2 separate regions of the Homo sapiens genome follow, and region 2 is linked to region 1. The links come from fine-mapping of genetic effects on gene expression. A gene starts in region 1. The other region holds a variant in brackets. All regions are shown on one strand. Distances are from middle to middle.

Region 1 (16,721 bases):
TCAAAATCTTTTGATACATATGTGCTCTCATATTTTCCTCCTTAATTACATGTATCATCAAGACTATAGTTCACCAGTAGACTATATTAGGAAAGTGGGCCAGTATTAATACTCCCATTCCTTTGTTTAGAGAATCAAGAGTATCAAAAGGTGTAATTCTTCTTTTTAAAGTTTCTTTAAAAACCCAGTATAAAGCCTTGGATGAGAATAGAAAACCTTCTTCAAAAGCAGGAAACAAGTCTTACTGATCTTCAAGTCCTAAGTACAGTGACTGCCTGGCCCAGAATATTTCTCAAAAATGTGAATATATTTAAACATGCTGATGTGGAATCAATAAATTGAGAACTGGGGTATAAACAAAAGATGCTATCTCCCAATGTGTCCATTTTTTTTTTTTTTAACAGATTTAGCTGCTTGGAATTGAATTCATTCTACCACCTTGTCATCGTTTCTCCCTTGCCAACTACAGCCCTTTTAGCTGACCTATAGCAATTAAGGGCTTTCAGGAGCAGCTGCAGAAATTGCATATGCACCACAGCTTTTGCTGCTTTACTAATGAATAACAGAAAGCATTATGGAGTGCTACATTTGAATTAATATTTGCTTTCTCATGTGAGGCTGATGCTAAAATGGTAGGCAGTGAAGCTGGAGAGGTAAGTGAAAGCCAGATAATGCTGGGTACTATATGACATTAAGAAGTTTAAATTCAATTCTATTCTAAAGGGCTTTTGCCAGTAAAGTTACATAGATTTTCATTTTAGATAAATGGCTCTACAGCTATGTGGAGGATAGATATAAAAGTGGAGGGTGAGTTTAATCTGGAGAAGAAGACATAGCAGTGACAGAACTAGAACAGCGGTATCGGGGGCAGAAATTCATTTAGGAGCTATTTCTACTTGGATGTCTCATAGGCAACTTAAACTCAACATGTCTAAAACAGCAGTCATTTTTCCCCTAAATTGACCCCCTGCCACTCTTTTGTCTCAGAAAACAATTGCACAATTCACCAAGTACCTCAAGCCAAAAACTTTAGAGCCATGCTTAATTTTGTTATTTTCCTCATCTTCTAAATCCAACTAAATACTATATCCTGTGGTTTCTAACTCCTTGATATCTATCAGACCCATTTTAATTTTTTCCACTCCCTCCTGCCCTACCTCACATCCTAGTCCACTATCACTTTTGTCATAGGCTAGTAGGACAACCTCCTAATTGATGTCACACATCCACTTTTGACCATGGAAATCCATTCTCTAGAGTGATCCTTCTGACACACTATCAATCACTATACTACCTTGCTCAAAATCCCCCAGTGGCTTCCATTATTTCTATGATAAAGTCCACAACCCTTAAATAGCCTATAAGCCCCTCTGGGATCTGGTTTCTGCCTAGTAATAGCAGGCATACCTAACATTAACTGAGCATTTCTTTTATGCTAGGCACTGTGCTATGCTTTGCAAACATCATTTATTTTATTCTCACAGCAACATTGTGAGGCAGGAACCATAAGCATAATGCTCATTTTGCAGATGAGGAAACTGAATCAAGGAGAGATTATGTAACTTATTCAAAGTTGTAGAGTTAATAAAGTACAGTCCCATACTGCGTAACATTTCAGCTGATGATGGACCCCCATATGCAACAGTGGCCTCATAAGATTACACACTTGACCCTTGAACAACAAGGGGGTTAGGGGGCCAACCCTCCACACAGTTGAAAATCTGTGTTTAACTTGTGACTCCCTCCAAACTTAGCCAACAATAGCCTACTGTTGACTGGAAACCTTACTGATAATATAAACAGTCAATTAACACATATTTTGTATGTTATACATATTATATACTGTATTCTTACAATAAAATAAGCTAGAGAAAAGAAAATGTTATTAAGAAAATCATAATGAAGAGATCATATATTTACCATTCATTAAGTGGACGTGGATAATCATGAAGATCTTCATTCTTACGGTCTTCACTTTGAGTACACTGAGGAGGAGGATCAAGAGGAGGGGTTGGTCTTGCTATCTCAGGGGTGATAGAGGTGGAATAGGCGGAAGGAGAGGCAGAAGAGGCAGGCATACTCAAGTGTAACTTTTGTTTGTTTGTTTGTTTGAAACAGGGTTTTGCTCTGTCGCCAGAGGGCTGGAGGACAATGAGACAATCACAGCTCACTGCAACCTCGAACTCTTGGGCTCAAGCGATCCTCCTGCCTTAGCCTCCTGAATAGCTGGTACTACAGGTGTGCTCCACTGCACCCAGCTAATTTTTTTTTCTTGACTTTTTGTAGAGATGGGTCTTGCTATGTTGTTCAGGCTGGTCTCCAACTCCTGACCTCAGGAGATCTTTCCACCTCAGCCTTCCAAAGTGCTGGGATTACAGGTGTGAGCCACCCCGCCCAACTTAGTATAACTTCTATTGAAAAAATAATCTTCCTATAAGTGGACTCATGCAGTTCAAACCTATGCTGTTCAAGGGTCAATTGTAATTCTATATTATTACTCTACCTTTTCTATGTTTAGATACACAAATACTTACCATTGCATTACAATTGCCAAAGCGTATTCAGTACAGTGACACGCTGTACGGGTTTGTAGCCTAGAAACAACAGGCTATATAACACATAGCCTAGGTGTGTAGTATCTAGGTTTGTGTGATTTCACCCTATGATGTTCAAACAAATATGATACCACCTAACGATGCATTTCTCAGAGTGTATCACCATCATTAAGTGACACATGACAGTATCGCAGCCAGGTCTGCCAAACTCCAGAGTATGTCCTCTTAAGCTATTCACGCCACCCTCAAACTGTCTGCCCCAGCCATATTGCATTACTTTCAGCTCCTAGAACTCATCTGCTCTCCTTGGCATGAGGCCTTCATACATACCGTTCCCTATGTCCGGAATGTCCCCTCACAAATCTCACCTTTACATGGGTAATATTTATTCATTTATCATGTCTCTGCTTAAATGTCATTGCCTCAGGAAAGCTTTCCCTTACTATCTAAAATTAAATTTTATATTTGTTTACTTCTTTATGGTCTGTTTCCCTTTGGTATGATGTCAAAATTGTTACCACTGGTCCTCAGTTCTCAGAATGACATTCAGCAGGAGTTCAATAAACATTTGTTGCATAACTGCAAGCATAAATGAATGATGCTGGGGTGGAAACTCCCTAAACTGAAAACTTCATCTATTCAGACTACTGATGAAAAACAGAAAGAAAGTATAAATTTGTTCATCCACTGGATATTTATTTAGTAGCTTCCAGGTCCCAGCCAGTACTCTTAAGAACTCATAGCCTTCCTATGGGAGACAGACACAAAAGCATGTGCTTATAACACAATATAAGTAAATTGCCTTTTATAATTGTACAATAGATGCAGAGATGGAAAAAAAGAGTATAAGTCTATAGGGAACCTTCCCAGGAAATTCCTGAGTCCTTTTGCAGGATGAAAGAGTCTTGAAATATATATTGCATAGTCTATGTATTTCACTTATGAAAGGGAGAGGAGCATCTACTATATATACCAGAGTACTTTACATCTGATTTAATTCCCACAAGAGCTCTGTGTTGTTATTCCCATTTTACAGATGTGGAAATCCAAGCTAAGAAAGGTCAAGGAATTTGCCCAAGGTTACAGGCAAGGACATTAGTAAAGGAGTGGAATTTGAGCCCAACTCTGACTCCAGTACCCACTTATTTATCATTATATTGAAATCCTTTGATACTATGCTCCCCAGAGCCTGCTTACTTTTATTTTCAATATAACTCTTAACACGATTGGTTATCTGGTTTCCCATTCTAATATGAATTAAGCAGCAAAATGAAAGATCAGGAAGAGACCAAAGTCAAGTATCCTGACGGCAAAGGAAAGAACAGAAAAACTATAAAAATTACACACAAAAATACAAAAACTAATGGATCATATAGTCAGTCCTCCACCCTTTGCTGCACAACAATAGTTGATATGCATAATGATGACCCCATTATGGACAAAAATGGTTGTTACAGTCACTACAGTCTAGAAGATAGAGAAATAACTTTTTGTGTTTCAAAGGGTAAACTTCAGTTACCTAGTATATTAATTCCTCTCGGGTAACTCTGAATTGTAACAATTGTTTCCAAAGTGTTAGTGAGAAGAAATATCCCAAGATCTTAAATAGAGTCTTCATTTTGTGGATATTATTTTTCTGTTGCTTTAAACTAAATTCAAGCCAGTATATAAAAACTGTCACTTTTAACTTACATAGTTACCCAAGTACATTTTAAATTTTAAAAATCTCTCATACAGGACTTTGGACAACACACGTGGATTGAGAAATGTAAAGATTGACAAGCATATATAAGGTGTTGCTGAATATTGTCAATATCTAAAAACTTAAAAAAAAGTATTCTAAGACACCTTGTAATAAAACAGGATAAATTATGAACGAAATGGAGGAAAAACTATAATATTTTTAACCTGCTGCACTCGTATCTTAAATAGCTACACATGTGAAAAAGAAACAATTCAGGCAAACACAGAGAAAGCTAGTTGAGCAATTTGCCATAAAAGTGTTTCTATCAAATACCCCACCTGGGTCCACCTTTTCAACATGAAGATATTAGCTTCTTTTAAGATAGGTTTTTATTATTTTATATAATTCTCTTCTTGAAAAAAGAGAGGTTGCATTTAGAGAACACATCCTGGTTTGTTTTGTTTTTAAAAATAAGAGAAAATTGTTCCACCAATTATCTTGAACAGGCTGACTAGGAAACATTTAATATCCTTTATCATTTTAGAGGCTTTTAAATGTGAGCCTTTACACTCAGAACACTGTGACAATGTGAAAAAAAAACACTGGCTACATTTTCCAACAACATGTAAAAAGAAATATAAGGAAAAACAAGTATTTACTTGGAATTAACTGTAGTTTTCATATATTCTTCCAGGAGCAAAGCAGTTTCTGCCTAAAACTCTAGAAAAACACTACTTGTTTACTTACAGAACACTCTAAAGATGTAAACTCATAATAAAAGTTTACATAACAACCTAATAGAAACAAACACAACGTGAATAACGGCAAGTAAAATTTAACTGTAGTAGAGACATAGTTGTATTTAAAATGCTCTTCCTTACCTGGATGCTCTTCAGAATAAACTCACTTTTCTCTCTCACATCTTTGAAGGGACACCTCTTAGAAAGCATAAGCAGATGAGCAAGTAGCTTATTCAACCCATCCGAAGACTCGGTATTTGAAAGCCCGTCTGATGGACGATGAGGTGTTTCTTTCACCGAACGAAGATACTCGGTTTTCCTCAAAATGGTTTGCCTAATGTTTTCCAATGCTGTCTCCCTAGTAGTTGAATCTCTGCTGCAGAGTCCATCCCATCTCACTTCATTCTCTCCTTCAGCCATGACAATAGTTTTTCCTTTGCGGTCTTCAGTTACCTTTCAGCATGCCCCAAAAAAATTGCTTTGTATTTTTAAAATGAAAAATGTAAAAATAAAATCAGAGAAATCAAATCGTCATGAAAACACACATCTGGGTGACATTTGGAACCACTGGTGCCTTCAGCCGATCTACAAGCTAGGTCACCCTCTCACCCTCTCCTTGTACACGAAAGGGCAGTCTTCTTTCTGGAAAAACAAAGTTTGAAAGTTGCAACCTTGCAGCGCTGGCTTTGGTGGGCAGAGAATTTCGGGGAAGCGTTCTCCTCCGTCTCGCGGGGTCAGTGGATATCCTCACGTTGTGGAGCTGTCAAATCCGTGCTCTGCCCCAAAAGGCTGTTAACAGCTGAACGCCCTCCAGCCATTCGGGGCTTTTTTGTCTGTGCAGCCACCGGGTTCTCTCCGGCGTTCCCACCCCGCCCCTTCTCCGACACCAGTCCCCGCCCTCCGCAGCTCCTCCCAGCGCCTCAGCAGCCGGCCGGCGCCGGCAGGGAAGGCTCGCCGAACCCTGGCCCACTGGCCGCAGCGGCCGGAGGCTTGGGCGCTGTCGGAGGGCGGCAGTCTCGGGCAGCCGTAGTCTCGGCGGGCGGCGGTGAAAAAAAGCGTCCCCCAGCCCCGCCAATTCGGCACCCCCGGGAAGACGCTACTTCTCCGATCCCTGAGCCCTCGCCCACCACCGCCGAGCCAGAGGGCACAGGGCGGCCCTGGCAATCCTCGAGCGCCAGGCTGGGCCGCGGAGCTGGCGGGGCGGCGGGGCCCGAGGCGCAAAGCCCGCCCTTCGCCCAGCCCCATCGGTGGGGATCAGCCCAGAGGGCGGGAGCAGGGAGTGGAGACGGGGTCCTCACCCCCAGCCCCTCCCCTTTCTCCGCCCGGCACAAACCGGGAGCCGCCCCGGCCCCAGCGCCTTCTTCCCCGCCCAGGCAGACGCGACCCGCCGAGGCAAAGCCTTAGGAAAAAGCCCCGCCCTCTGGCAGGCTACCCTCCGGACCCCAAGTGCGCCGCGCGCGGCTGCCAGCCACTGCCGGCTGCTACGCATGCGTGACTGCGAACTGGGCCAAGCGCCCCCGGAGGCGCTAAGCTTGCGCCCTGAGGCGGTTTCCGTTCCCGGACGTTTGGACTCTGTCCTGGAGAAGGGGAAGGAAAAAGTAAGACGTAGAAGTACACTGAGACTTCGTCACACATAAAACAAGCACGACAAAGAAAGAGGGCGCGAAGGGACTCCTGGAAGAAATTGAGTCTACATTTAAGATCACCCTAAAAGTAGTGACGGCCTCTTCATTACTCCAAACCCCAGATTTAAGTCGGTAGGACGTCTTCGCGTTGACTTGTGGGGAATGTAGTTTCGATGCTGCCGGCGCGTTTTGTTTGCGACAGAAACTACAACCCCCAGGGGCCACCGCGACGTTGCCTGTGGGTGCCCGCGAACCAACGGTTAGCGGTGGCAGGGGCTGACTGAGAGCGTCTGCTTGGTAAGCACTGTAAGCTGGGTTGTCACCTTTCCTTGACAGGGTTTTTCCTTCCTCCATTTCCTCTGGGATTTTGGAGACAAAGCCATCTAGGGTGGCCTCCCTTAGTCCAAGGACTTTTTCCAGTGACTTGCGTGGGAAGGACTAGTCCAGCTGCCCAAGCGCGGGGTGTGGTGGGTGAGGCAAGGATTTGGGATCCTGATCCCAAGGGTCGCAGGGAGCGGCCTAAGTAAGGCCAAGAAGGAAGGATGCTGTGGAAACTGGAGCTTCGCGCTGCTGCCTCTGATTCCGCCCTTTTTTGTGGACACACGCGGGGTGGATTTGGGATCTCCGCGCATTTGCACCTTTGTTTGCCTTTGCTTAGGGATGTTCTGGGCTTTATTTGCTCAGTCAAATGAAATCCTAGGCAGGGCTTTGAAAGCAAGTTGTCAAATCCATCTCGTAAAAGAATCCCCAGTATTCCTAGATAGGAATTCTTGCAGGCTTTAAGGATACAGCAGGAAAAAGAAAGCAAAACCGTAAAAGTCTCCAAAACTTAGTCGACTTTTTCAAAAGATTCAGTCATTTGCTTAAAATTAGTTTGCTTTTAAAAAGTTATTATTTGAGAAAAGTCGAGGTTTGAACGGCCATCAGTGGACTGATAATCGGTGTAGATTTTAATTCTTTACATTGCAGAATTGCATTGCACTAAATTCTAAAAATTTCGTCTTGCTAGGCACTGAGTATACAACAATGAAAAAGACAGTCTTACTAGTTAGAGGAACTAGTTGTTAGACATACGGTTACAATAATACATGATATCACTGGGATGTCTAGAAGGAGATGACTTAGCCCAATCTTGGAAAGTCAGGGAAATCTTCATCCCAGGGGAAATGAAGACCAAAAGAACAGCATATGCTAAGGCCCAGAGTGAGAGATAGGGTACTTTCAGGAAACGTCAGTAAGCCAAATCATGCATACTTGGCGGTGTGGGGTGGGACGGGAAGGGTGCTTTTTGTGTATTGATGCACTTAGAAGCTACAAAGAGACAGGTATTGTGAATTCTTTACATCGTTTCTGTAAGTGAGCTATTTTTGAATAGATGCATAGTTCTGATGAATTGGTCTAATTTCAAAAGCCTTGTTACATTCTGACACTTCTAGTTTGAATCTGAATTTTAAAAAGGGAATAACTTATGAGTGTGATTGAAAAAGCAAAACAAAAACCATTCCGTTTTCATCTCCTTTTTGGGATCTTCATTCTCTATCCAGCCCATAAAGGGTCGGGTAGTTTCTTAAGGCTGGGTGCCTTTTTATGCCGTAGTTAAATATGATCTCATGTATACCCATGGCTTCACCAACACCTATGACTCTCAAATGAATAGCTCCATTCAGCTTCACCTCTCAGCTTTCACAATATCTCTTGGATATTTCTTCTTGGATATCTCAAAAGCATCTCAAACTCAACATACCTAAAACCAAATGCATAGTTATCTCTTATGAATCTAATTCTTTTTCAGTGTTCCTTATTTCAGCAAAGGACACTACTATCCATCTACTTGTGAAAATTTGAAAGCTAAACATTATTCTTTATTTCTTCTTGCCCTTCATACTTCTATGGCCAAATTATTATGAAGTTCTGCCAACCTTATCTCTCAAAATATCCTTCAAATATATTTTTCTCTCCACCTGTCTTCAAACTGCGATAATCTCTCAAGACCACTACAGTAGCAATTATTCACAATGACCCTCCTCCATTAGTTCTCCATTATATCTGCCAGAATGATTTTTTGAAACTGCAGATTTGATCAGATTTTCTCTTGGTTAAAACTATTCAGTGGTGTCCTACTACTGTTAAAGACAAAACTCCTTTATAAAGCCTGACATCATCTGGTACTCTTTCAGACTAACTTCATATATTGCCCTCCAGATCAGCCATACAGTCCATTTTTCAGTCATTGGTTCTCATATTCCATTTCACCCACGCGTTTACTCAACAAATCTCTGTTGAGTCCCTTTTATATAACAGGACATTGAAGATACAGCATTGACCACAATATATAAAAATTCCTACTGTCATAGAGCTTGCATTCTACTGAGGAGAGATAATAAATAAATATGTAAAACACTTAGTAAATGAAATGAAGACAAATGCAGTGGAGAATAAAACAACTGGGAAGGGGAATGGGGAGTGCCAGGATGTGAGGGGCAAGGTTCACTTTTAAATAAGGTTGTTAGAAAAGACATAATCCAGAAGGGGACAATTGAGATATGAAGTAGGGGAGGGAATAAACCATGTAGATGCCTGGGCAAATAACATTCTAATGAAGAGAATTAGTGCAAAGGCCTTGGGCAGAAGCCTGAGTGCGCATTTGAGAAATAGCAAGAAGGCTAGTGTGGCTGGAGCACAATGAGTACAAAGAGGAGAATAACATGAGGTCACAGAGAAAGGAAGTAATGGTAGGAGAACATGTAGGTGACTGAAAGGACTAACATTTTTAATTGGGTTGGGAAAGCATTGGAGAGTTTTGCGCAGATGAGGGCATGATCTGACTTTTAAAAAATGACTACTTTTCTCTCTCTCTCTTTCTCTCTCTCTCTCTCTCCCTCTGTCTCAACGGAGTTTTGCTCTTGTTGCCCAGGCTGGAGTGCAATAGCACAATCTTGGCTCACTGCAACCTCCACCTCCCAAGTTTAAGTGATTCTTCGTCCTCGGCCTCCCAAGTAGCTGGGATTACAGGCATGCACCACCATACCTGGCTAATTTTGTGTTTTTAGTAGAGACAGGGTTTCACCATGTTGGTCAGGCTGGTCTTGAATTCCTAACCTCAAGTGATCCACCCACCTCAGCCTTGCAAAGTGCTGGATTACAGGTGTGAGCCACCGTGCCCGGCCTCTTTCTTTTTTCCTGAGACAGAATCTGACTATGTCACCCAGGCTGGAGTATAGTCATAGCTCACTGCATCCTTGAACTCCTGGGCTCAAGTAATCCTCCCACCTCAGTCTCCCAGGTAGTTGGGACTACAGGCACGTGCCAACAAGCCCAGCTAATTTTGTATTTTTTCCTTTTTTTTTTTAACTGAAATTACATAACTGAGATAATTTTTGTCTTTTTGTAGAGACAGGATCTCACTGTGTTGCCCAGGCTGGTCTTGAACTCCTCAAGTGATTGCCTCAAGTGATCCTCCTGCCTCAGCCTCCCAAAGTGCTGAGATTAGAGGCATAACCCACTGCAACTGGCCTGAAGTGAATATTTCTTTTAAATTGTGTTGAGCATAGACCATAGGGAAGCAAGGGTGGAAGCAGAGAGACTGGTTAGGAAACTAAAGTAATAATCCAGGTGACAGAATCTGGATACATTTTGATAGTATAGCCAACAGACTTTGCTGACAGATTGTGTGAGAGTAAGAGTCAAAAATGGCTTCAAAGTTTCTAACCTGAGTAACTAGAATGGAGGAAGTGCCATTTACTATTATGGGAAAATCTGCAGATTTGTGAATGGGAGAGAGAGGAAAGGTTGGTATTTTAGCTTGGCCACGTTAAGTTTGAGATGCCTCTAAGAAATTCACATTGAGATGTGGAGGTGGAGGAGGCAGTTGAATAAATGAGTCCAGAAGTGAGGAGAAAGATCTGGCAATAGATATAATTTTGGATTTTATAGTAGTGTTTTGATAGGAGTTGTTGATATCACCAAAAGTGATATTCTATGGAGTTTGGGTGGATTTGGAGTTCTCTGCAAAGGTGACTGAAGGAGCAGCCAGTGAGCAGAGAAAAACCCACTGTTCAGTAGGTGTTCTAGAAGCAAAATGAAGAAAGTAATTAAGGAGGAAGGAAAAATAAGTTATGTTAAATGTTGCTGTAGGTCAAATGAGATGAGGATTCATAATTGACCAGTACATTTAGCAACATGGAGGTCATTGGGATCTTGATAAGAAACTTTTGGTGGAGTAAAGGGTACAAAAGCCAGATGGGTACTTTTATTTATTTATTTATTTTTATTTATTTATTTATTTTTGAGAAGGAGTTTTTGCTCTTGTTGCCCAGGCTGGAGTGCAGTGGCGCTATCTCGGCTTATTGCAAGCTCCGCCTCCCAGGTTCAAGTGATTCTCCTGCCTCAGCCTCCTGAGTAGCTGGGACTACAGACACCCGCCACCATGCCCGGCTAATTTTTGTATTTTTAGTAGAGACAGGGTTTCACCATGTTGGGCAGGATGGTCTCGATCTCCTGACCTCGTGATCCACCCGCCTCGGCCTCCCAAAGTGCTGGGATTACAGGCGTGAGCCACCGTGCCCAACAATGGGTACTTTTATTTAGTAGAGTATGGGAGACAGCGAGTATGGATGCAGCACTCTTTTACTGTGTTCTTTGTCCAGATTGTTCTAGCCTGTCTTTAACTCCTCTTCTTGCAGGTCTTTGCTCAAATAATCATTTTCTCAGAGGTGTCCCTGATCTAATTAAATACTCTTCTTGTAAATAGACCTATTGCACCGTAAACCTTGAGTTGCTCTTATGTTACCAATTAGTTTTGCAGTTGTGCCATGATTTGATTAAAGTGTGTTTATTTCAGTAGAGCTTAAGCACACAAGAGGAACTACTGTGCTTGTTTTTGTTGATCATCTTATCTCTACCTCTGAGTACAGTGCCTGGTACCTAGTACAAACTTAATAAATGTGTGACGCAAGAATAAAGGAATGAATGAATGGAAGAATGATATAATGCCACAGAACTTTCAAAGGTATGGCATATTTATCTATCATTTACAAAAACACAAAGTAATTAATGGATGGACGAGGGTACATTATAATAAAAACATTTTAGAAAGTTCGTCCTAAAAAAAACAAAGCCGGGCACAGTGGCTTATGCCTATAATCCTAGCACTTTGGGAGGCTGAGGTGGGCCGATCACTTGAGGTCAGGAGTTTGAGACCAGCTCGGCCAAGATGGTGAAACCCCGTCTCTACTGAAAATACAAAAATTAGCCAGGCGTGGTGGTGGGCGCCTGTAATTCCAGCTACTTGGGAGGCTGAGGCAGGAGAATCGCTTGAACCCAGGAGGCAGAGGTTGCAGTGAGCTGAGATCGTTCCATTGCACTCTAGCCTGAGTGACAGAGTGAGATTGTCTCAAAAAAAAAAAAAAAAAAAAGAAGAAAGAAAGAAAGTTTACAGAATCTGTAGCCTAGGAAATGTAATTACTGGTCACATAAAATTTTATTTAATGTGATACAGTTTCACATTGTTTAATTCAGAGTTCTTATATTCATAATGTCTGCTTTTTGGCTGGGCATGGTGGCTCACACCTGTAATCCCAGCACTTTGGGAGGCTGAGGCAGGTGGATCACCTGAGGTCAGAAGTTCGAGACCATCCTGGCCAACATGGTGAAAGTCCATCTCTACTAAAAGTACAAAAATTAGCCAGGCATCATGGCACACGCCTCTAGTCCCAACTACTCAGGAGGCTGAGGCAGGAGAATCGCCTGAGCCTGGGAGGCAGAGGTTGCAGTGAGCCAAGATCGCACCACTGCACTCCAGTCTGGGCGACAGAGTATGACTCTGTCTTAGGAAAAAAACAAAACAAAACAGTCTGCCTTTTTTGCTGCAACATATCAATAGATGTTATGGAATTTAGAAGAACTTCTTTAGATCAGTAAATTTTCACAGTTACATTTTAGAAGAGTAATTAATTAGGGAACAGATATTGAGAGGTTTTGCTAACTTTGGTCATGGACCATGGAATCATGCAGTATGTTGCCTTTTAGACTGGCTCCTTTACTTAGCAATGTGCATTTATAGTTATTTTATGTCTTTATATGTATGGCTTGGGAGCTCATTTGTTTTTATCACTGAAAAATAATCCATTGTATGGATATATCACAGTTTGCTTATTCACCTTTTGAAGGACATCTTAGTTGCTTCCAGTTTTTATCAATTATGAATAAAGTGTCCTAAAAATTTATGTGCAGGCTTTTTCTGGGCAAAAAATTTTTAACTCATCTAGGAATATGATTGCTGGATCTCAGGTAACCCTATGTTTAGCTTTGTAAGAAACTCACAGCTGTTTTTCTTTTTCTTTTTTCTTTTTTTTTTTTTTTGAGACGGAGTCTCACTCTTTCGCACAGGCTGGACTGCAGTGGCGCCATCTCGGCTCACTGCAAACTCCGCTGCCGGGTTCACGCCATTCTCCTGCCTCAGCCTCCTGAGTAGCTGGGATTACAGGCGCCCGCCACCGCGCCCGGCTAATGTTTTGTATTTTTAGTAGAGACGGGGTTTCACCGTGTTAGCCAAGATGGTCTCGATCTCCTGATCTCGTGATCCGCCCGCCTCGGCCTCCCAAAGTGCTGGGATTATAGGCGTGAGCCACCGCGCCCAGCCATACAGCTGTTTTTCAAAGCAGCAGTACCATTTTCTATTTCCCACCAATGAATGAGAGTTCCTGTTGCGCCCCACCTTTGCCAGGATTTGGTGGTATCAGTGTTTTGGACTTTAGCTGTTCTAATAGGTATGTAATGGTATCTCATTATTGTTTTAATTGGTGATTCCCCAATGACATATGTTGAGCATCTTTTCATACGCCTATTTGCTGCCTGTGTATCATGTTTGGTGAGGTGTCTTTTCAGATCTTTTGTCCATTTTTAAATTATTATTACTGTTGAGTGTTTTTGTTTTTTAGAGGCAGGGTCTCCCTAGGTCACCCAGGTTGGAGTGCAGTGTTGCTTTCATAGATCACTGTAACCTCAAACCCCTTGGCTCAAGCAGTCCTGCCTCAGCCTCCGAAGTAGCTAGAACTACAGGCATGCACCTCCACGCTCAGCTTACTATTGAGTTTTAAGAGTGCTTTGTATATTTTGGACACACAAGTCCTATATCAGACCTGCATTTTGTAAATATTTTCTCCAAGTCTGTGGCTTGTCTGTTCATTCTTTAATAGTGTCTTTTGCAAAGCAGAAATTTTTAATTTTAGTGAAGTCCAGCTTTCATGTATCATGCTTTTCGTGTTGTAGCTAAAAAGTCATTGCCATACCCAGGGTCATGTAGATTTTCTCCTGTCTTCCAGAACTTTTACAGCTTTGTGTTTTGCATATAGGTTTATGATCCATTTTTTAGTTTTTTTTTTGTAAAAGGTATAAGGTCTGTGCCTAGATTTATGTTTTTATTAAAAAGTTTCTGCTGGATCTGAAATTATTATTTTGATCAATAATATTAAAAGGTGAAAAACTTTTTTTTAAAGACCATTATACTGAATCTGTACAACTATATTGGTGCCATTCTTCAAAACTGTTCCTTGAGAGAGAGACCTGAAGTCAGCCTAAAGATGAGGCCAGGGAGAACTTTATCTGGAATGTATCAGGAAACCGGACTAACAGTTCCATTTTAGTTATCTGTTGTCAGCATGTGCAGTTGGCTGAGTGCTGTAAGTGAAAATTGTTAGGAAGACTTTCTACAATTAAGAATATTATTCTCCAATTGAATTACCTTGTTACTTGTCTACATTGCTGGTTTTTGTTTTTGTTTTTTTGCTACTTTTTTGCCTAGTCTTACAAGGTTGCAAAAATCAACCTGTGATTTTTCCACAATAGTTTGACCCTTCTCTACAATGAAACACTGAAGCCATGTAAACTTAAAATATCTCTTTCTATGATAACTGACTTCAACTTAAGTTTTTAAAGGAAATTATACTAATTATTTACTGTATAGTAGCATAAGCAGTTTTGCCTCTAAATGCTTCCTTAGTTTTTCTTTTGGCTTGTTGAAAAATGTCTTGTCAACCAAGTACTATATGTGTACTTTTATGTGTGGGGTATATGTGTATTGCCCAAATGAATCATAAAGGCTCTTAATTTGAATCTGTATATTTTATTTTTAAGTTTTCCTTAACAAGGTCGATTTGAATTCCTTAACAAGATTGATTTGAATGATATTCTTTTCAGCCCTTCAAAAACATATTTTCTGAAACACTGTCATACATACTATTCTCAGAATACCATGCCCCTTTTTTCTATGTTATTTTGGTTCCATCTTTCAGGAATAAATGAGTAAACCACTTAAATCAAGTTTACTCTTCAGTATTTTCTCCAGTTTTTCTGTTTTTGGTGTCTCCAAATTTACTATAGTATGCTTTGAATGACTAAATCTCTAGTATTTCTGACATATATTAATGGATAGATTTTTAAAAACCAATAATTGTTGAATCTATTTTCATTTTGCTCTTCTTGAAAGATTTGTGAGCGAGCTCTAGCAATATACGCAACATACAATATGAATTTTATAAACCAGTCTCACTACTGATTTTATTCTTATTTTTCTACTTATTTTCCTTATCCACATTTTACATGAATATATACATATATAGGGGTAAGATATTAAAATTATATGTCATTTTTAAAAGCATTACATATTTCAAACAAAAAATAAGAGTAACAAAATAAATACCCTTTTAAACTACCCCTTGGAATGAACAAATGTTAACATTTTACCTAGTTTGCTTTAGTTTTTGTTTTTTTTTTTTTCAATGAAATGAAATATCACATAGGTTGTGAAAGTGCTCTTGGCACAGTCATATATTGTCTTTGTCTTTTAAAAAAATGTTACATAGAAGATATCTTACTATCTGTAACTTACTTTCTGTTTTACTCAACAATATATTTTCAGAGCTTATCTGTGTTGCTAAATGTAGATCTTGTTTTCAAATTTTAGCTGGTGTATAGTGTTTCATTGTATGAATATGATACAACTTATTTATCCAGTCCCTATTAATGTATATTTATTTAAAAAAAAAATTTTTTTCTGTTGCAATCAGTGCAGCAGTGAACATCATTATACATATGTCCAGATATGTGCCATTTTCTCTAGGGTTCACTCATAAATTCGGAGAAGTGGAATTGCTGAGTTATAGGATATACACAGGATCACATTTTTCAAGTTATGTTTTGTTTTACCAGTTTACACTCCCACTGGCAGTTCATGGGAATTTTCATTTCCCCACATCCTTGACAAAACTTAATATTGATAGGCGTGTTTTTTTGTTTGTTTTTTGTTTGTTTGTTTTGTTTTGTGAGACAGAATCCCACTCTGTTGCCCAGACCAGAGTGCAGTGGCACAATCACAGCCCACTGCAAGCCTCAACCTCCCGGGCTCAAACGATCCTCCCACCTCTGCCCTACAAGTAGCTGGGAACACATGTGTGTGCCACCACACCCAGCTAATTAAAAAATTTTTTTTTTGTAGAGACAGGGTCTCACAGTATTGCCCAGGCTGATCTTGAACTCCTGGGCTCAAGAAGTCCTCCCACCTCAGCCTCCCAAAGTGCTAGGATTACAGACATGAGCCACTGCACTGGGTCCTGATAGGCTTCTTTTAAAATTTTTTTCAATCTAATGGGTGTAAAATAATTTCTGTATTGTTTAAATTTGCATTTTCCTGATCAATGAAGTAGAACGTTTTTGTCCTTTTAGCTATTCGTGTTTTCTTGTCTTTTAACTTCCATTGTACCTTTTGTTCCTTTGTTAATTGACCTTTGTGTTTTTCTTAATAATTTATAGGATAGAACTTGTTTCTGTATTTCAGATACTAATCTTTTATGTTATATATGTTTCTTTTTTAAAGATATCATCAATGATGTTTTTTGTTATACAGACATTTTAATTTTTATATAGTTTTATCATTTTTTCTTTTTTATTTGTAAATTGTCTTGTTTTAAGAAATCTCTTCTTACCCAAAGTCTGAAACGTACTCTATATTTTCTTCTAAAACAAAGGTTTGTTGTTCACGTATAGATGTTCAGTCTAGCTAGAATTTATTTTTGTGTTTGGCATGGAGTAGAGATATATGTTTATATTTTACCGTGTGGAT
Region 2 (16,721 bases), 82 kb after region 1:
TACAATTTCTAGCAAAAGTATCTTTAATATCTTACAAAATATTTTCAGAGATAGCTTATCCAAAATATGTAATACATGTGAGAGAATAGCACTGTTGAAATGCTTGAACACATAAAAAGCATTATTGCCTTCATTTTCCCTGAAATGAACCAAGCTACCAATTTAAAGCTGGGAAAGTCAGTACCAGAGTTAAAAACAAGTTACTTTAAAGATATCTGCTTTTACTTTAATCTAAAAAATAATTGATTTTTTAAAAAACTTATTCTATTTTATGTATATAACTTCTCCTTTATAAGCTTAGAAAAATTTATATCAGTATTACATTCTTGATTCTCTCAAGGTATGATTTAAATGGTGGACACTTAAGCCAAAATTTCAAACAGGTTCTTTTTTCTTTGTTCTTTTACAGAATGGCTCTCAAGTCGAAAGAGGGCTGTGCCTTTGGTGTTTGGGTATGATATATTTGCCTGTGATTTCTCATTCTCAGAGCATTCCCATAAATAATGCCACAAAGTAGAGTTTGATTTTTTTTTTTTTGAGACGGAGTTTCGCTCTTGTTGCCCAAGCTGGAGTGCAATGGCGCGATCTCAGCTCACTGCAACCTCCGCCTCCCAGGTTCAAGCGATTCTTCTGCCTCAGCCTCCCAAGTAGCTGGGATTACAGGCATGCGTCACCACACCCGGCTGTTTTTTTTTTTCGCATTTTTAATAGAAACGGGGTTTCACCGTGTTAGCCAGGCTGGTCTCGAACTCCTGACCTTAGGTGAACTGCCCGCCTCAGCCTCCCAAAGTGCTGGGATTACAGGTGTGAGCCACCGCGCCCTGCCTAGAGTTTGATTCTCTTAAACCGTTCTACTAAAATACTATCAGTTTAAACTACCATCTACAGAAATAAAAAACATAAACCACTAAAAGATTAAAGCATTTAGGAGTTTATATGCAAAGAAGTCTTGCAAGGGAGTACAAGCTTTAGGAGGACAGGCTTATCAAATTAAAAAATGAAAAAACCTACAAAATTACCAAAGTCACCAAGTTTAGTTATTCTTTTCATGGTGGAAAACAGTTTCCTCAGATAATCATCATATCAGAGGTCATCATGTATCCTTAGATATCAGCATTGCCAAGACCAGGGATATAGTTATTAGTAATTTACAGGAAAGGCTCAAGGTTTCATTTACATGGGAAATGAGAACTAGACAGTGTGGTGACTGTTTTTGTTGTTAACCTTACCTCAGTGTTTTATCTCGGGTGGTCCCCAAGACCACCTTCAGGATCAGTGATTCACTGGAGGGACTCACAGAACTCAGAAAAGCTGTTAAGTTATGGTTATGGTATATTATAGCAAAAGAATATATATTAAAATCAGCAGCTGAAAAAAGGCACATAGGGCAAAGTCTGGGGGACACCAGGCACAAGCTTCCAGTTGTCCTTCACCTGTGAAGTCATGTAGACAGACCATAATTCTCTCAGCAGACAGACCATAATTCTCTCAGCAACAATGTGTGACAACATTCTTGGAGAATTGCTAACCAGGGAAGCTCCACCAAGCCTTGGTGTCCAGATTTTTTCTTGAGGGTTGGTCACGTAGGCATAGCATGACTGATAGCCCATGTGGCTGACCTTCAGTTTTCAGCCCCTCCAAAGATGGAGCTGATACTACATGGCCTAAGGACTTCACCATTAATCACATTGTTAGCTTAGACTACCTGGTATGGCCTAAGGCCCCCAAGTAAATTAAAACATTCATATCAGGCAGGATAGTCCAAGGACTTAGAGGTTATCTTGAATCTGGACACAGGACAAACATTTCTTTGGAATGTGAAAAGTTTACACAATCAAGACTTGCTATGTTGATCCTTTACTGCGGTATTGTTTTTTGTTTTCTGACCCAAAAGTGATGTGCATTGCTTACCTATCATGGCCTCTGGTTAAGGTGTCAGTCTTGCCTCCAAATTTCCTCCTAAAGCATGGAATTGGCCATAAATTTGCTTAGTGATTTTCTGATTTAGTATCATTAGTTTGATGACTAGTTTTATTATGTGAGTGTGATAAAAGGTTACGCTTAGTATACAAAGACCTTCTTATAAGTCTAGTTAATAAAACTAGGGCCATGTGTTACTACAACATAGGAGTTAACTTTGTCTGGAGGCTTTTTCAAGCCCAAGAGGTTGTCATTTCTTTATGTGTAAGATACTGCCCACATACTATACTGAAGTCAGGAACCAAGAACCGGTCAATTTACCTCAGCCAAGTTGCTTGGACTGCTTTGCTTAATAATGGGTTTGCCATATCTACTTTAATGAGATGTGTGGCATGGTGATGGTTACAAAAGTGATTTGTTAATTATTGCCTGGTAGGAAGGAGAACATGTTTTTTTTGAACCTATGCAAATAGCCACATGTCTGTGAAAAGTAAAGGGATACTTTTGTGTAATATTTAACCATGTATACCATTGTTTGTGTACTTTTTAATTGTGTCATTTTCTACAGTATTATTTTTGCATTTTCCTGACACTGTATTACTTACAAGTTATATTAATAATTTTTATTAATTTTTTTCCTGAATCCTAAAAGGTCAGTTGGAACATGAGACCATTTAAAGAATATTATTTCCTTCCAGTTTATTCAAGGGTGGCCTATTGAGAGTTTGAGATAAAGAAGAAAGGAATCTTTCCTTTCCTTCCCCCTCAGCCCGCCCCCTACCTTTCTTTTTTTTTTTTTTTTCTTTTCAGGGTCTTGTTCTGTCACCCAGGCTGGAGTGGAGTGAATGCAATCAAAGCTCACTGCAACCTCAAACTCTTGGGCTTAAGCAGTCCTCCTGCCTCTGCCTCCCAAGTAGCTGGGACTACAGGTGCATGCCACCACACCTGGCTAATTAAAAAAAAAAAAAAATTTTTTTTTTTGAGGAGACGCGGTCTCACTTTGCTGCCCAGGCTGGTCTCAAACTCTGGGCTCAAGCAATCCTTCCACCTCAGCCTCCCAAAGCTCTGGGATTACAGGCATGAGCCACTGTGCCCGGCAGAATTTTTCTGTGTCCATTAGAAATAGAAATCAGTCACATGCTATGATTTCAATATGTCACTCAAAAGCCATGTGTTGGGGCTGAACGTAGTGGCTCACGCCTATAATCCCAGCACTTTGGGAGGCAAAGGAAGGTGGATCACTTGAGGTCAGGAGTTTGAGACCAGCCTCCAACATGGTGAAACCCCGTCTCTACTAAAAAAAAAAAAAAAATTAGCTGGGTGTGGTGGCATGCACCTGTAGTCTCAGCTACTCATCAGGCTGAGGCAGGAGAATCGCTTGAACCCAGGAGACAGAGGGTGCAGTGAGCCGAGATCATGCCATTGCACTCCAGCCTGAGCCATAGAGTGAGTCTTGGTCTCAAAAAAAAAAAAAAACCTTGTGTTGGAAACCATCTCCAATGAAGCAGTGTTAGGAGATAGGGCCTAATGGATATAAATTACAGTGTCTAAGATGGATACTTTACTCTTTTCTTTTGAGAAGGGAGAGAGTATGTTATGCACTGAGAACTTTTCAGATTTCTTGCAGAGGTCATAATGTTCCAGACAAGCTGGCAGCAATCATTCCCATCCCATCACAGATCCAGGCTTATTTGTAGAATGGTTACACAAACCAAGCAAAACCTTCTGTAAAGTTTCTACCCTTTGCTCTAAAGTTACATAAAAACAATTTCCAAGTTTGTTCACTGTGTATATTTTGTTCTTTTTCATGGTAGATTTGTCTGTTGGAGTTAGATATCCCTAAATAGTGTGTTCAAATGATGTTTTTTTCTGACTGTTCAATCTCCAGCATATTTCTGAGGGAGAAAGGACATTGACTTTGGAGAAAGAAAGCTGTGTAATTACAAATGGACTATTACAAAGAACTATGCCTTCCTTTTTGAGGAGAAAAAAGATGGTTTTTAAAAATTAATACGCAGGCTGGGCGTGGTAGCTCACGCCTGTAATCCAAGTCCTTTGGGAGGCTGAGGTGGGAGGATGGCTTGAGCTCAGGAGTTTGAGACCAGCTTTGGCAACATAGTGAGACCTCATCTCTACAAAAAAAATTTAAAAATTAGCCAGGCATAGTGATGCATGCCTGTAGTTTCAGCTACTTGGGAGGCTGAGATGGGAGGATTGCTTGAGCCCCAGAGATGGAGGCCGTGTGAACCATGATCATGCCACTGCACTCCAACCTGGGAGACAGAGCAAGACCCTATCTCAAAAAATAATAGCAATACACAGAACTACCAGCCTTAGTTTATAACATTAGCCACAGATGGATCAAATGTAATAAAAGTACAAAAAGCGTGAGTCATTGGTTAATGGTAGCAGCTCCAGATCTCCAAGGGCTTCTCTGCATTCCAGTGGCCACAAAAATATTTTTCTTAATTGATTTGAACTCATAGTGGCACAAAAAAATGAAAAACAAGTTTCGTCAATGGTCAGAAGATGAGAAAGAAAGTAAATCAGTGATGTAGGGAGTAATATGAGCAACTTTCCAACCTACTAATGCAACCTATCAATTTGACCAAACTCATGTCTTAAGACCCAGATGCAAAGAAAAGATGTATCTTAGATGACAGAAGATAACAGAATCCTCAAGACAAAAACAAAGTACAATCAGATGTCCTGTCATTGTTGCCTCACAAAGAACGGATCGACCATTAAAATGTGTATTTTCAACATTGCTGCCACCAAAGGAGAAATAAGTGGCTGTTTACAAATCAGAACCAGTGTCAAACGCAGACTTGGCCAGGAAGCAAAAAACATATGAAGAGCCAGAAAAAGAACTTGAATCAACTAGATGAAGACTTTATTGCCTCAAGACTGGAAAATGTATACCTCGAACAGCCCTTGAGTTGCTCTTCATGGACAATGTGGTGGACTTTACCCTGGTTGATGCATACACAAAATCTTAGAGGAATCTACACAATTGTCAAAGAAATATAGACAAAGGATTTAGGGGGGAAAGTTTACTTTCAAGGAAAGTTTGCAAGCAACTCCCAAGTTTTAAAAGAACTGGCTCATCAAATAAAAAAATACAAAAAAAAAAAAAGGAAAACCCACAAAATTACCAGTATTACCAAGTTTGTAGTTGTCCAATCATGGTAGAAAAGACAGCGATTTTCTCACATGATTGTCATAGCCACAAAGATCATCACAGATTTTCATCTATTATCATTGCAAAAGTTGGCAATAAAATTGCTTTTATTAAAGGAATTAGTAAATTATAAACAAAACTTAAGGATTATTTTATTTTGGGAAAATGAATGACAGTGACCCTGTTTTTGTTTGCTTATTTCTCTCAGGGTGCAAGATATTTTCTGACTACAATGTACATGTTGATAATGCTCTGATAACAGCAGAGCAGTGTGTACATTTTGCTTTCACACATGCTTCTTTTGATCTTTGGTAATTTTTTAAAAAAATGCTTCCATGAACAGATAATGAGGTGGTTTATTATTATTTGAGGTAAAAGAGACAATAATATGGAGCGGTGGGAGCCAAAGTTTAAGAAAGTTTCTTTGGGGCCGGTCGTAGTGGCTTATGCCTGTAATCCCAGCACTTTGGGAGGCTGAGGCTGGCGGAACATGAGGTCAGGAGTTTAAGACCAGCCTGACCAACATGGTGAAACCCCGTCTCTACTAAAAATACAAAAATTAGCTGGACGTGGTGGTGTGCGCCTGTAATCCTAGCTACTCAAGAGGCTGAGGCAGAAGAATCGCTTGAACCCAGGAGGCAGAGGTTGCAGTGAGCCAAGATTACACCAAAGTGCTGGGATTACAGGCATGAGCCACTGTGCCTGGCTACTTTGGGTAAGATTTAGTAAAGGCCACATCATGAAAACAGTTAAGTTACAGTCATATGTTGAAAGACATTGGAAGGTTATAGAAGCAACAAAGACTAGAAGAACCAAAATTCCAGAAATGAAAGAGCCTTCCTAGGTGAGTTGACAGTCCCTGGCTATTTGCTTCCTTAGCCAATCTACCAATTCTAGTCACAGTGACAGTTTTGGCATAAGAACCCAAATGCGACAAACAGAAGCCAGGGAGACTTTTGAAGGCCATGGCTGCAGGAATGGCAGAGTTGAATCTAATGTCTGAAATATACCCATTGGATATTTGCTGAATGCCAAGGTGTGAAGGAGTCTGGGGGGCTGGTCTAGAAAGGCAAAGTAAAATCTGCAGTCTTGCCATGCTTAAAAGATAAACCCTGCTAGAAGGAGGAACTGCGTCAAATATACGACAGTTCTCTCCCTCAAATTTTTGCCAGATTTTGAACTTTCATGGGGTGGGAAACTAAGTTCGAACCTTTGAAGGACAGAATTTCAGAGATGAGGAAAAAGAGAAATGTCAATCTATCAATCAAAAGGCTCAGAAGGCACACCTAAGAAGGAAGTTGGAAAGGCAGGTAAAATCTGAGATTAGCTTAGGAGACAACACCCCACAGGAGAGAGGAAGCCAGCACAAAACACTTGGCCAGTTTTCCTCTCTAGACGTTTGCCAGATTTTGAAGCTGCAGGAGGTTAAAGAGCTAAACTAAAACCTCTAAAAGGGTAGAAATCTTCGGTTAAAAAAAAAAAAACACTAGCCAAAGAATAAAAACCTTACAATGGGCCGGGTGTGGTGGCTCATGCCTGTAATCCCAGAACTTTGGGAGGCTGAGGCAGGTGGATCACCTGAGGTCAGGAGTTTGAGACCAGCCTGACCAACATGGAAAAACCCCATCTCTACTAAAAATAAAAAATTAGCCAGGCATGGTGGCGCATGCCTGTAATCCCAGCTATTCGGGAGGCTGAGGCAGGAGAATCACTAGAACCCAGGAGGTGGAGGTTGCAGTGAGCCGAGATCGTGCCACTGCACTCCAGCCTGGGCAACAAGAGCAAAACTCGGTCTCAAAAAATAAAATTAAAAATTAAATATATATATATATATATATATATATATATATATATATAACTAATGTGTTGAGGACAAAATGGGGAAATAGGTAAATTCACTGTAATAAGATTTTAATATACCTAGCTCATATATCCTTTAAAAAATCAGTGATTACATCAATGGATATAAAAGATTTGAACAACATGACTAGCCAATATGATCTAATTGGCGTATATAAAACACTATTCCCAACATCAGAATACACATTTTTTCAAGTATACATGAAACATTTACCAAAATAACCATATGTTGGGTTATAAAGCAAGCTTGACATATTTTTAAAAATTGAAGTCATACGGAATATGTTCTCAGGCCACAGTGGAATCATACTAGAAACCATAA[CAGAA/C]AGAACCAGTTTTAAATAACTCTTATGTCAAAGAAGAAATCATAATAGAAATTAGAAAATATTTAAAATATAGTGAAAACACAACATTAAAAACTTCTGTGATGTAGCTAGAATAGTGCTTAGAGGGAAATTTATAATATTAAATACATTACACGAGAGGTTAAAAATTATTTATCTAAACATCCATCTCAAGAGCTGGAAAAAGAAAAGCAAATTAAACTCAAGATAGTAAAAGCAATGATCTACTAAGTTAGGTGAGCAGAAATCAGTAAAAGAAAAGGCAGACATGAATAACCTAGAGAAAACTCAGTAATACTGGTTCTTTGAAAAAAATTAGTAAAATTGATAAATCTCTAATAAGACTGATCAAGATAAAAGCAAGTACAAGCTGGGCGCGGTAGCTCATGCTTGTAATCTCAGCACTTTGGGATGCCAAGGCAGGCGGATCACCTGAGGTCAGGAGTTCGAGACCAGCTTGGCCAACATGGTGAAACCCTGTCTCTAATAAAGATACAAAAATTAGCCAGGTGAAGTGGCACCTGCCTGTAATCCCAGCTACTCAGGAGACTGAGGCAGAAGAATCACTTGAACATGGGGGGCGGAGGTTGCAGTGAGCTGAGATTGTGCCACTGCACTCCAGCCTCGGCAACAGAGCAAGACTTCATCTCAAAAAAAAAAAAAAAAAAAAAAAAAAAAAGACAAGTACAGAAATTACCAATATCAGGAATATAAAAGGAGACAGCACTACACATTTTATAAATATTAAAAAGATAAGAAGTTTAAAAGGACAACATCAAGAAAGTGAAAGGATGACCCACAGAATGGAAGAAAATATTTGCAAATTGTACATCTGATAAGGGACATGTATCTAGAATATATAAGAACTCTTACAACTCATCAATAAAATACAAATAATCCAATTAAAAATAGGCAAAGGATCTGAATGGACATTTCTCCAAAGAAGACATACAAATGGCCAATAAGCATGTGAAAAGATGATTGACGTCATTAGCCACTGGGAAATGCAAATTAAAACCACAATAAGATACCACTTCACACCAACTAGTATGGCTTAAATTAAAAAGACAGATAGTAACAAGTGTTAGCAAGGCTGTGGAGAAATTGAAACTCTCATACATGGCTGATTGGAATGTAAAATGGTACAACCACTTTGGAAAAGTCTGGCAGTTTCTCAAAGGTCAAACATATTTACCCTGTAATTCCACTCCTACACATATACTCAAGGGAAATGAAAACAGATGTGCACAAAACCTTGTATATGAATGTTCATAGCAATATTATGTATAATTGCCCCCAAATTGAAACAACCCAGATGTCCATCAGTTGATGAACAAATAAAATGTAGTATAGTTGTTCAATGGAATATTATTCAGCCATTGAAAATGAATGAAGTGCTGATACATGCTACAACAAGGATGAGCCTTGAAAACATGCTAAGTAAAAGAAGCCAGTCACAAAGGACTACATATTGTATGGTTCTGTTGATATGAAATGTTCATATAAATCTGTAGAGACAAATCTGTAGAGAGAAAGTCAATTAGTGGTTGCTTATTGTTAGGAAGAAGAGGTAGCTTAGAGAAAAATGAGGAGTGGCTGGTAATGGCAATAGGGTTTCTTTTTAGGGTAATGAAATGTTCTAAAATCGATTGTGGTAATGATTGCACAACTCTGAATATACTAAATAAAAATCATTGATTGTGCATTTCATGTGAGTTAATCAGATGTTGTGTTAATTATATCTCAACAAAGCTGTTAAAAAGTATGATACTATGAAAAACCTCACATCCCCCCAAAATTCATCTACTTAGATGAAATGTGCTTATATATCCAAATGTTCTTTTAAAAGTCTTAATAAAATGAACACAAAAATAAATAGAAAATTGAATAGCTATATATCTGTTTAAAAAATTGAATCTGTAATTGAAGTCCTCCCATACAGAAAACTTCAGTTTACTATATTTCAGAGGTGATTTATTCCAAGTATTTAAGGAAGGATATAGCAATTATAAACATTCTTCAGAAAATAGAGAACACTTCACAACATGTCTTATGAGGCCAGCATAATGTTGATACCAAAATTTCACAAAAACATTATAAGAAAAATGACAGGCCAATGTCTCTCATGAACATAAATGCAAACATTCTGAAAAACATAGTAGAAAATTGAATACATTTTTCTATAAAAAAGATAACAAATTATGACCAAATGGAGTTTATTCTAAAAACACAATTTTGGATTAACTTTTGAAAATCTGTGAAATTAACCACATTAACAAATAGATGAGGGAGATCACATGATTAATAGATGCAGAAAAAGCATTTGACATAATTCACCCTTTCAAGAAAAAAGTAAAATAAGCCTCTCAGCAAACTAGAAGTAGAAGCAGGTTATTCAACTCAGACTATCAAATATATTTATCTCATGTCCCCTATGTTCTATAGACACAATGAAGGGAAAACACTAATGTGTTTATCTGAACAATGCCTAGGGGATGATGAAGCAGACTTGGAAGGAACCCGGGCCGTTGAGTGCCCATTTAGTAGTGGGGCTGCTCTACAACCCCAGACCATTTACATTAGCACCATTAGGTTAGAGAGATTTAAAAGATCTTTTTTCTTTGATTGATTGATTGATTGATTGATTGGAGACAGAGCCTCACTCTGTCACCCAAACTGGAGTAGAGTGGTGCTCACTGCAACCTCAGCCTCCTGGGTTCAAGCCATTCTGCCTCAGCCTCCTAAGTAGCTGGGATCACAGGTGTATGCCACCATGCCTGGCTAGTTTTTGTATTTTTAGTAGAGGTGGGGTTTCACCATGTTGGCCAGGCTGGTCTCGAACTCCTGGCCTCAAGTGATCCACCCACCTCAGCCTCCCAAAGTGCTGGGATTATAGGCATGAGTTTGTTCTTTTAGCCACTGGTGATGGTGTCTTTTTGTTACAATGGCTTAGCCACACCCCTACTAATGCAGAAGCTGGCATGTAATGTATTTCATTTGAAAGCATAGATGATTTGAAAGCATTTGATGATCAAGATGACTACGTATCAAAAATGTTTACCCAACAAGGTTACAGAGTATCTATCTGTGCAGATCAATAAAGAGAATTGGATTAGCCCACAGTGATATGGGACCAGTATGCTTATCAGTTTAAATTCTGGCATTTGCTAGAATAAAAATAATTGTTTTATTTTGGTACATATCACATTATCAAGTTTTGGGAGCCTTTAAAACACTTGAAGCTGTGCTGATTTATGTATTTTGATGAGCTTAACTATTTACATTTATTATAATTACTGTTACATTTGAACTTAATTCTGCCATACTTCTTTTTGTTCCCCCCCACCACCACTTTTCTTACCTTCTATTGCAGGGGTCCCCAGTCCCCAGGCCATGGACCAGTACTCATCAGTGGCCTGTTAGGAACTGGGCCACACAGCAGGAGGTGAGCACAGGCAAGCAAGCATTACCACCTGAGCTTCCTCTGGTCAGATCAGTAGCAGCATTTGGAGTCTCATAGGAGCATGAACCCTATTGTGAATGGTTCATGTGAGGGATCTAGGTTGCGTGCTCCTTGTGAGAATCTAGCTAATGCTTGATGATCTGAGGTGGAGCAGTTTCATCCTGAAACCATCCCTCTGCCTGGCCACCTGCTGCTTCCCATCCATGGAAAAATTGTCTTCCATGAAACCAATCCCTGTTGCCAAAAAGGTTGGGGACCACCGTTTATTGGATTTAAAAGTCCTATCTCACCCCTTACTCCCACTTCTTTGGGAAGCTCTAGGATACATTTCTTTTTTTTTTTTTAATAGGTACGGATATTTTTATTTTATTTTTATTTTTTCCTATTTTTTATTATACTTTAAGTTCTAGGGTACATGTGCACAACGTGCAGGTTTGTTACATATGTATACATGTGCCATGTTGGTGTGCTGCACCCATTAGCTCATCATTTACATTAGGTATATCTCCTAATGCTATCCCTCCCCACTCCCCTCATCCTATGACAGGCCCTGGTGTGTGAAGTTCCCCACCCTGTGTCCAAGTGTTCTCATTGTTCAATTCCCACCTACGAGTGAGAACATGCAGTGTTTGGTTTTCTGTCCTTGCGATAGTTTGCTCAGAATGACGGTTTCTAGCTTCATCCATGTCCCTACAAATGACATGAACTCATCTAGATGCATTTCTATTCTTTTACTCATCACCTTGAAACTTTTAAAATAGTTACTCAGTATTTCTTTTCTAAACGTGTCTGCTTTATCCCCATCCAAGCCTGCTGTAACCACACATTGAACACCCCCAAACCTTGCTCAAGCTGATCTTACTATTTTTGTCTTAAATTTTAACCACGTTTTAAATGCATAAAAATTATGTATTATACATAATTATGAATTACAAATAATTAAATGTACTTATTTTTAAAAACATGATTGAAGAAATTCTCTTTTCTCGCAATCTCTTTTCTAAGACTAAATGAGTTCCCAGTGCTTGCCTGACACACGGTAGGTTCTCAATAAATGAAGCACACCTCCCATACCCCTCCAAATAAACAGTTGTCTCTTTAAACCTAGACATGAGTGCTCAGCAGGCATGTATTTCTCTGGGTTGGATTCATTTCATGGACAGTTGTCAAAGACTGACCCCTTTATGTTAATTTTCTGAATACTGTGCTTGACTGTGTTGCAAGCTAAACAGTACAGGATTAAATGTTCTCATTTCTGAGCTGTGAAGTGTTGAAACTGATCAAGAAATGAAGGCAGAATGTCCGTCCTTTGGGAGAATAATCAGCCAGTCTATGTTGCTGCCACTCTTGGCTGCCGATTGGAATGCAGCTGTTAAGGCAGCTGTTTAACTGTTTGCCCAACTTGAAAGGACACTGCCAAATGGCAAATATTTTCTATAACAACATTTTACTTTTGCTAAGAACAATAACAGTGCATTTTATTGAGCTCCAATGGCGTGCCAAACACGACAGATTTATTACTAGGCAGGTTCACAACCTGGACTGAACATGGATGCTCATTTCCATTTTTCATATATTTAGAAAAAGAATAAATGGGCTCCCAAAGGAAGCCTCTACACAAAACATCTCTACAGCTTAATTATTTGTTGAAATGACAGCATATTAACTTGAGAAAATGAAATATCTCAAAAGGAAAGATGAGAGTCTAGAAATATCACAGGAAAAAAATAAGGTTTAAGTATTTTAAATCTCTCTAATGTGGCCTAAGAGAGACTTAACTCATACTTGTCCAGGACAGGTGAGGGCAGCAGTAACACAAGGAAATACATCATCTGTTGAATCCCCTGCAACTTATGGGTCCCAGGACTTCTGAGTCATGCAGTTAATCTACATTGTTAATTAGAATGTTGATACTAAGTACTTAACAAACAATTATGTTGAATTTGACAGACTGTGAACCAGGTGAGGTGGGGTGGGAGGTTATCAGCTGTTATTTAATGGTAAAACCGGTATGCTAAATGTAGGCAGTCAAAATTAAGAAAACACATTCAAATGCGGAAGTACAATTTTCTATTAGAAGTCAGCAATAACTGCCATTCACAGAAGTTACTGTGTAATCCCCACAAACATTTATCAAGACTGCAGAGGTGAGGGGTGGTGGGGGGTGCATTCTCACTTATTAAACCCCACAGCCAAAGCTGAAGCAGAGATGTTTTTGAAGGTGAACTGGGCTAATCAAAGGCATGGCCAGTGGAGATTCTAACCTACTTTTTCTCTACTGTTTACTAGATGTTAATTAAATCACAAATGACAACAGTCTAATAGCAAAATGCATGCATTTCTACAAAGTTGACATGATTTCTTGGACAAAGATAGACAAAGTTCAACATGCTGGATAATGGTCACTGAGGGCATCAAGATTTGTGATCCTCTTTTTCAGGGATACAGAAAAACAGCAAATACAAATCATGGATGAAATTTATAAGATCACTTCCACAGAAAGGGTCCAGCTGTTGGAGAAAAAACTGGCTGTGCAACTGACTGAACTGAAGTCTGAGATAGAAGAGCAGGGAGCTCTTCAGGGAACAGCTAATCGAGTTTACAGGTAAATAGTGGCACTGAGAAGGTGTGATCTTCAGGGGCTTTACTCCCCACTCTCACTCCGTAATCTACATCAGCACCCTCTCTTCTTTTTACATAGACAATTGGCATTATCTCCAGTTCAGATAAATAGTATATAATAGCAGTTTCAGGTACCCATTTCTAACCTGATTGCTACCTCTAAGATTTTTCTATATTCTAGATTTGTTAAGACAGATCCAAGCAAAAGTCTTACCAAGGAAAATGTAAGTGTTTTTACATGTTAATTAATGCTATTGTCTTGAAGTTACAGGAGCTATAATACAAATCATACTCAATGAAAGGAGATCTCATTTTACCCAATAATATTTTAATTGAATTTGACTTTGATGTTGGTGAGAAATTTAAAAGCTGAAATAATGGTAGGCACTTAGTAATACATTATGCAAAACAATGTTCTGTGAGTGTTATCAGCACTCTGGATTCTTGCTGTCTCCCAGGATAGAAATCAAGAGAGATCACCAAACAGAGCAGCAGCAAAGGTAAGTGTATTCAGGTTGTGCACAAGGGAGCCAGCACCAAGAAAGGAAAAGGAAAGAGATGCTCTCCAAGGGTAGTGTGTGCGTTAGTTTTATAGCATCCTTTGATAGAGAAGGGTTACATCAGGGCACATATGGCGGGGTGCGGGGGGTGTGGTTTCTAGTGCTCATACAGTGGCTCAACATGCTTCTTCATACATCAAATGTAGCATTAGCATTTTAAATCTCCACCCAAGGCATTATTCTTAGCACAAAAATGAGGAAGGGGTAACTATAGGTTGAGTTTTAGTTCTAACTGCACCTGTGGGGCTTTGTGGAAGTCTCTATCCCCCCAAAGTAGGAACTTGCTGTTAATAACTCCTTGGGTCTTTTGTTACTGATTTGCTGAGAGTTAGGTAAGCTAGGGCTTGAGTAGGGGCTTCTGTTCTCCTCTAGAGCAGATCACAACAGGAAGCCAGCCAGCCTGTTTCATTAGGAGCTCTTCTATAGGTAAGTGCTGCCAACAACAGCAATCAAGTTATTGTAGAGAAACAAGAGACACAGATCAGCCCCTAATGGCAAGTCTCATGGACCCAGGACCTTCATATCCCTGTTTCTGATACTGCCACAACTGATCAAAAGGAGCAATATAAGAACCCTGTTAGGTTGAATCATTGAGAAAACACAATGTGGATGGTGAGAGGTTTGGAGAGGTCAGAAGATGCAGTAAGCAGGTGAATTAGTACTTCATTCCAAAGACAATTCTGAAGAACCAGCATTTCATATGTTTTTTAATTAGTATTTAAAACCATTAGGTGTCTGAAGCAAATCAGATTGTGTGATGAGATGGAAAGATCATGGAACCATGCAAGTCATAATTTCTCTCAATTTTGGTTTCTTTATTTGAAAAATGAGGTTAGTACCTTGCCTACCTACATAAGGTTGTGAGGATAATGAAATAATGCATGTTAAAGTATTTTTAAGACTAGAAAACACAATGCAAAGATGGAGTGTTGATATTATTATGATTTAAATGTCAGAATGTCAGGCAAGTGACTCCCCAGTGTACACTGGGATAAGAAAGGCTTTCTGATGTCTCTTAGAATCGAGTGATGGGAAATCCTGGATAGCCTTATTTGTCTACTCCCCCAAATCACCCAACACTGCACCTAACAAATACTTCTTGAGCACCTTCTGTTTTCCAGGTGCTGTGCTAGGTTCTAGAGTCCAAGGAACATGGAAATATCCACTCCTGATAATCACTTTAACATTCTCATTCCACTAGATTGAAAAATCTATTGAGGCTTGGAGAAGAACTGTGTGTCTTAAACATTTCCGCCCCCCCCCCCCCGTTTTTTTTGCATCCTTTCCCTTGTTTTACTCCACAAACCCAAGACTTTGCAGTGGTTAAGTGTTTCATAAATTCTTGCTGAATGAATAAATGAATGAATGTATGTTGAATGAACAATGCTTGATGAACGTATGAGTAAATCTCTTTTTGCAGGTTGATGTACACACTACTTATGTTCACCAGTCTCTTCAGGGTCATTCACAGGCACTTTGAGGCTAACTGAGAGGAAAGACAAGATCTGAGTGAGAGAGGGCTGGGTAGCTAAGCCCATGACCCTCCCCATCTCCCAGTATGCCAAAGATAAGAAGACAAGAGGGCAGGGGAAAGTTTCTTGTGTTTCTCTAGCTGCCTAGTAATAGCTGATCCCTTTTCTGGTTGGTTACTCATTCCCCACCGCCACAAGGCTGCAGCCAGGATTCAGAATGACAGAAATTATACCTCAGGTTTATTACCGGTTTTATTCTCAAATCCCTTTCAGAGCTCACCTCTTTTTCTTTTTCCATTAAAGCGAAGATATTAGGAGATAAGAGGGGCATTATCTCCAACTTCAGGGGTGGAAATTTGACACAATGTGTCTAAATGGGTTGCTTAGGCTCACTTGACTGATGGATTTCTTGACTGTCAGCCTGGGGTTCTTTTCACAGAACCACTGCCTGCAGTGGGGGAAATTGCTGGCAAGTGTACAAACTAACAGTGTATTTTTATCTTCCCTTAAAACTTATCTGGGAACTCATAGGCCATATGAACAATAATAACCTAAATGTCACTGCTTACACCTCCTGCATAATCTCTAGGTGGTCTCTCACCTGTGTTCCAGACTACCTGCTGTGGCCCCTTACCAATGTCTGCAAAATACTATCTTGAGAAAGTGATGTCTGCATCAGGGTTGCTGTTTCCTGATGTTTTCAAAGCTGCCAAACCTTGGGATATATCTTATCCCAAATGTGGAGCACTCTGCTGTTCCTGACCCAGGGTCCACCCCCTTACCAGGTGACCCCACAGCTTGTGCCTCCTTGTATCAGAGTCCATGGTAAAAACAACAGGTCCCTCATCAGTGGGTGTGAACAGGAATCCACAAGGCTGCTTAAACAGGCACTTCTGCTATAAATGTTTTTCCTACGAATCAATAATTTTCCTGAAGCATTAAGTTTGGTTAAAATGATTCCTGAAGTATTTCATGTTTGATATTTAAGAGTCATTCCCACCCCCCAGCAGATAATTCATCAAGAACACAAAAATAAAAGCATTTTATTTTAAATTACACGATACTGGTTTTATGTGCCAACTAGGGTGAAAATGGGATCTGAGAGGCACAATATTTGTCAGAGATAAGGTTGCTGGAGGGAATTCAGGTGGGGAAATAAAAATCCTCACCATTGTGTCCCTCCCTTTATTCTGCAGTAGGAAATAGTGAAGTGAATCAAGGGTAGAACGAAATACTCTGTTTGTTTGGGGAGGGGAGAGAAAAATTGGCCCAGGGAAAAGTTTAGCAAACATGCTAATC

Which allele goes with the higher level. Positions count from the first base shown, and alleles are read on the strand shown. Sizes are in standard deviations (SD) of each study's normalised expression.
With allele CAGAA in place of C in region 2, the expression in whole blood of the gene that starts at base 6,833 in region 1 is lower (large effect, 1.4 SD a copy in Lepik 2017).

What was found. PIP is the estimated chance that this variant, and not a neighbour inherited with it, causes the effect.
Region 2: its variant is fine-mapped to the expression of CEP57L1 in whole blood (TOPMed, PIP above 0.99). The same link has a PIP of 0.9 or more in monocytes.

What each region holds. Positions count from the first base shown.
Region 1 is chr6:109,088,675-109,105,395 of GRCh38, forward strand. CEP57L1 (centrosomal protein 57 like 1) reads left to right here and starts at 6,833. Exons shown (of 11, transcript NM_001271852.3): 1 at 6,833-6,901. SESN1 (sestrin 1) reads right to left here and starts at 6,172. Exons shown (of 10, transcript NM_014454.3): 1 at 5,121-6,172. The coding sequence starts at 5,399. RefSeq lists enhancers at 5,540-5,689, 6,560-6,819 and silencers at 5,800-6,499, 12,784-13,175.
Region 2 is chr6:109,170,719-109,187,439 of GRCh38, forward strand. CEP57L1 (centrosomal protein 57 like 1) reads left to right here. Exons shown (of 11, transcript NM_001271852.3): 11 at 1-3,700. It also overlaps the pseudogene CCDC162P. Among named protein-coding and RNA genes, the nearest start is that of CEP57L1, 84 kb to the left of the region's middle. The variant CAGAA/C (reference allele first, on the strand shown) is at 7,284.